Linked DNA regions of Homo sapiens: region 2 is linked to region 1. Evidence: fine-mapped expression QTL. Tissue or cell type: whole blood. Region 1 holds a variant in brackets; the other region holds the start of a gene. All regions are shown on one strand. Distances are from middle to middle.

Region 1 (2,751 bases):
TTTCGATTTCATTGAGTTCTGCTTCTTATTTGCTTATTGTTGCTTGCTTTTGGTTTAATTTGTTATTTTTCTAAGTTTCTTAGGATGAAAGTTTAGACTATTGATTTGAAACATTTTTCCCTAGAATGCTGCTTTAACTGCATCTCACACATTTTGATTTTTCATCAACTCTTGACTGTTTTCTCATCTCGTCTGTGACTTCCTCTTTGACCCATGGGTTGGGTTGTTGTTTAATTCAGGCTCTTGTTTTGATAGGTATCATTAGGCCTCCCTTGCTTACACGATGATCCACTTGGTCCTGAAATTTCACAAAGTATATACAGTATTTCACTCCGCCAGTCGTTTCTATCTTTGTGTGAAATGGTTTATTGGCTGCTTGATTTTTATGGGCAGAGTGAAGCAAAGAGAACGTGAGGATTCTGGGCTCCGGCTGGGGTAGATGGGGAGGAAGAACCGAGACGCTGGAACCCAGGGACACCCGGTTCTCAGCAGTGAGAAAAGGGTGAATGCTCAGTTTTGGAACAGTTCCCCAAGTTCCCCTTGCTGCTTGGAACGCCTCATTTTCTTCTGTGGTCCAACTTAAACTCTCTAATTGGACTGGCTTCCATCTTTTCTCTTGGAGTTCTTCACTTCAGTAATGCCCACTCCATATATCCCTATGGAAAATTCTTCTTCCAGGGAGCGTTCCCAGACTCCTCCCCATCCTCCAGCACCCTTTGGCTGTGCCCACCCGTGGCTGCCCCCAGGGCTTGTGTCTGGTGTTTATATCTTTTCTCTGCCTAGGGGCGGGCCCACCTTCTCTTTGCTGTCTCACAGGAACCCCCAGCCTGTGCTATGTTGATGCCCAGGCCAAATCTTTCTCATGACCTTTCTTCATGCAGGTGCTGCCCGCAGATGAGATCCCTAAGCCCATCAAGCCCCCGACCTACCAGGTGCTGGAGTATGGAGAGGCTGTGGCCCAGTACACCTTCAAGGGGGACCTGGAGGTGGAGCTGTCCTTCCGCAAGGTGGGCCAGGCCGGAGACGGAGGGGTGGGTGGGGGCAGGTGAAGATGTAGGTAAATATGTGCACTAAAAACA[G/C]TTTTTTTTTTTTGAGACAGAGTCTCACTCTATCGCCAGGCTGTAGCGCAGTGGTGCCATCTCGGCTCACTGCAACCTCCGCCTCCCGGGTTCAAGCAATTCTCCTGCCTCAGCTTCCCGAGTAGCTGGGACTACAGGCACGCGCCACAACACCCAGCTAATTTTTGTATTTTTAGTAGAGACAGGGTTTCACGATGTTGGCCAGGATGGTCTCAGTCTCTTGACCTCATAATCCACCCGCCTCAGCCTCCTAAAGTGTTGGGATTACAGGCGTGAGCCACCGCGCCTGGCCTAAAAACACTTCTTTAAAAAAGAGTCCGATGTACCTAGCTTCACCCAGGATTTCAAAGTTTTCCCCAGTCTCTTTCATTATGCTTCCTTTAGTGTAGTGGCTTTTTTTTGCTTTTTTTTGAGACAGCATCTCACTATGTTGCCCGGGCTGACCTTGAACTCCTGGGCTCAAGCGATCCCCTGTCCCTGCCCCAGCCTCCCAAGTAATTTTGGTCCATTTTTAAAAGATCATCATAAACTTCTAGAGTTACATATATATTTTTTCAACTGCAGGTTGCAGGGGATCATACTCAGCATTTTTAAAGGTATAGACAGAAATGTTAGCATGCGTTGCGAGCAGAAAGCACTTTATCATACCGTAGGCAGTTCTGTGTATGCACATATATATGTATTCTGGGCTGTTATTAAAACATTTTTAACTGTAGATTGTGGTGAAACAAGTTTGAAAAATGCTGTTCTAGAAAGCAGGGAAGTGGTCTGCCTTTGGTTGATTTTGGGAGCAGTGATCATGCTCCCAAAATAAGCGAAAGACGGCCCATAGTGAATGCCTCCCAGAAGAGCTGGCCCCAGGGACAGAGGGGGAAGAAGGTGGCTGGATGGAGACAGATGGGGGCAGGAGAGGACAGGGGAAGGCAAGGGCTGGAGGCCACCCTCCCAGGGGGTGGTTCTACCTAATGTCAGCCAGCCTGTGGCCTTCAGGACTCCCTGCCTGTCCTGGGGAGTGTGTTTTTGACACGCTCATGACAAGGTCCCCCAGCGTGAGGCAGGAACAGGACCCAGGCAGGGCAGTAGTGGTAGCACCTGTCCAGTGTGTCTAAGGAGTGGACTGTTGATCTCGTTCACACCTCATAGTGACAGTATGGTTATTTTCACTTAACATAGGAGAAAACAAGGCTCAGAGAGACAGAGCAGGCTGCCTGAGGCCACACAGCTTGGCCTGGTGGAGCTGGGTTTGGATCTGTATTATTAGCCACGGGCTCACCTGTGATCGGAGCTCTGGGGAGGGACCTTGCTATGAACGCCGAAGGGGGATGCACACCCGTTGAGCTTCCAAGAGGCAGGACCCAGTCTCAGCCTCAGCCTTGCCTGGGCAGCCTGGGCTTGGCTCCTGGCTCCTGCTCTTACCGTGTGACTCGGGTAAACTGCTGGCCCCCTGCGATTCCGACCCCTCGTGTGTCCAAGGTGTTAGGGTTGAATGAGACAGCCCAGATAAGGCACCCGTGGGTCCATGGCACCAGGAAGGCCCCACAGACACTGACTTTTCCCCCCTCAGGGAGAGCACATCTGCCTGATCCGCAAGGTGAACGAGAACTGGTACGAGGGACGCATCACGGGCACGGGGCGCCAAGGCATATTCCCTGCCAGCTACGTGCAGGTGTCT
Region 2 (2,625 bases), 30 kb after region 1:
GCTCTCTCTCATCTTCAGTAGCTTCTTGGGCTCCTTTTAGGTTGGGGACTGAGGGGTGGAATCCCACGGGCCAAAGGCAGGGTGAGGTGGGAACAGGGGGACATTTACACTTTGGCCCAGTCTCCAGGCGGCTCCCCGCTGGCTCGCATCTTTCCAGACCTTGAGACCTACCCAGTCCCCAGCTTTAGGGAGCCCGGGATGAGAAAGAGGCAGGGGACCGGGAGGGGGTTCAGATCTAGCTGAGGACACACGCGCGTTCTGCAGTTGTAAAAGATTTCCCGGTGGGCAGGATCGTTTCCCCTCCCATCGCCCAGGTTTCCGAGCGGCCAAGAGACTGGCCCCCAAGCCACACTGCTAGGGAGCGCCGGGTGCCCGCGTCCTGGTCAGCGCTCTTCCCACCGCCAGCACGTGGGGCTCCCATTTCCTTCCTGGCTCTTGTCCGGTCCTCCAGCCAGCCCCGGCTCTAAGTCCGCGGCAGGAAGACGGACGCTGCGTGTGAACCCGCGGGGCCGGGCGGACCGGCGCCCCGAGCCAGACGGCGTCCCCAGGCGGGGGCCGGGTCCTCGCAGAACAGCTGATCGGGACCCTTATTTTGGCCACAGCCACAGTTGGGGGCGCCACCCAGTCCGTGCCTTCGACCTCGTTCTTGGCGACCCGGCCACCTGCGCCCCCCACCTGGCACCCTTGCCTTCCCTCCTCTCGCCCCTCCCCTCCCTCCTCTCGCCCCTCCCCTCTCCTCTCCCCTCCCCTCCCTCTCCTCTCCCCTCCCCTCCCTCTCCTCTCCCCTTTCCCTCTCCCCTCTCCTCTCCTCCCCTCTCCCCTCTCCTTTCCTCCCCTCTCCCCTCTCCCCTCCCTCTCCTCTGCCCACCCTCTCCTCGCCCCTCCCCTCTCCCCTCCCTCTCCCCTCCCCACCCTCTCCTCTCCCCTCCCCTCGCCCTCCTCTTCCTCGCCCCTCCCCTCCCTCTCCTCGCCCCTCCCCTCCCTCTCCTTTCCCCTCCCTCGCCTCGTTCCTCTCATCCCTCGTCTTGCCCCGCCCCTTTCTCCTCGCCCCCTTCTCCTCGCCCCTCCCCCTTCCCCTCGCCCCTCCCCTCCTCTCGCCGCTCCCCTACCTTGCCTCGCCCCTCCCCTCCCTCGTCTCGCCCCTCCCCTCTCTCCTCGCCCCTCCCTTCCTCGTCTCGCTCTTCCTCTCTCCTCCCCCTAGGCCACGCCCCCCACCGCCCCGCCCCCCGCCCCCCCAGCCCCGCTCCCCGCCCCCCCAGCCCCGCTGGGAGTGTCTGGGGGCCGCGCCCAGCTGGGTCGGGACGCGCTCCCTGAGCTGCCCGAGCTCCGCGGGGACTCGGGCCGGGATCCTCGGGCGGCTGCATTGGCCGGGGCCGGGGCCGGGAGCGGGCCATGATGGGCCGGCGGCGCGCCTTCGCCGTGGACGGCCGGGGTGAGTCACCCACCCCCAGGCTGGCCGGGCTCCCCCCTGCCCCGGAGCCGCTTCCCGCCCCCAAGCCGGGCACCCTCTCTCAGTTTCTTGCCCAGCCCCGCGCACCCCGCGGGCGGAGCCCGCGCCGCTGCGCCTCCCTCGCCGCCTCCCTGGAGGGGCGGTCATCAGGGGACGCCATGCAGGCTGGAACCCCTTTGGGCCCAGGCGTTAAACCAGCCACCGCCTCCGCCCCACTTCCTCCGGCTCCGCTTCCCTCGCCTTCCCGCTCCTTCTGAGGATGTGGGAATCCGCCCGCGCCCCAGCCCCCTCCGTGGCTGCGGACCCCTCTCCCACCCAGTGACCTCCTGGCCCACTTCCTTGCCCAGAGGGGCCTGGGTTGGCATTCGGCTCCCGCGTGCCCCGCAGCTCGTCCCCGCCCCCCTAGCCTGTTTCCCGTACCGTTCATTCCGCCAGGACGCCCCGTCGCCAGAGGGCCTGGCGGAGGTGACAGTGAGGGGGTGCTAATGCTGCCCCTTCGTCCCTTTCTTTCACTTCAGTTCTTTCATTTTAAACTTTTCATAAAATCTTCACTATTGCTCACTTACAACAAAAGCCCAAATCGGTTATAGCGGTGATTTTTATCACTCTCCCGGTGAGCTGCAGGAGAGACTTCACCTGGCATCCTGATGCCGCAGGGGCCCCCAGAGAGCAGGTTGGATCCCAGGCTTTCCTCTCTGTACCCTCTCCCCTCTCCCTGAAGCTGGATACAGTCCTACTCCCGCTTGGGGAGCAGCGGAAGAGCCTGTGGCTCCCTACTTCTGACTCGGGAGATCGTGGGCTGATCCTAGGTGGGAAGCGCAGGCGCAGGCCGTCTAAGGGATTGATGGATGTGGCCTGCCAGGGCTTTGCCTACCACACAGCTCAGAGCACGGGTTCCCTGTCGCTAACAACCGTTGCGAAGGGAATCCCATCCACACATCTCCCAGACAGCTGGGGCCATATCCGGGCTGCCCGTGGCTGTCCAGTGACCGCCCTTCCTCACTGCTCCGGGACACTTCTCCCTGGGGCAGTGCTGCCAGCCTTCAGGAATGCTGGGGGTGTTGGGGGTGGCCTGCCCAGCCTGACGCTGACTCTCCATGCAGATGGGGCTGGCGAGGGCCTGGCACGGGGCTGCATAGTGCCTGGAGTCACCAGCACCTACAGACGGATCCCCG

The links. PIP is the estimated chance that this variant, and not a neighbour inherited with it, causes the effect.
Region 2: it holds the start of C8orf58, and the variant in region 1 is fine-mapped to the expression of C8orf58 in whole blood (TOPMed, PIP above 0.99).

The regions. Positions count from the first base shown.
Region 1 is chr8:22,568,267-22,571,017 of GRCh38, forward strand. It overlaps SORBS3 (sorbin and SH3 domain containing 3), which reads left to right. Exons shown (of 21, transcript NM_005775.5): 17 at 882-1,007; 18 at 2,644-2,751. Among named protein-coding and RNA genes, the nearest start is that of PDLIM2, 11 kb to the right of the region's middle. The variant G/C (reference allele first, on the strand shown) is at 1,080.
Region 2 is chr8:22,598,329-22,600,953 of GRCh38, forward strand. It overlaps C8orf58 (chromosome 8 open reading frame 58), which reads left to right and starts at 1,271. Exons shown (of 7, transcript NM_001013842.3): 1 at 1,271-1,432; 2 at 2,554-2,625. The coding sequence starts at 1,393. RefSeq lists an enhancer at 1-269 and silencers at 656-715, 1,081-1,180, 1,211-1,670.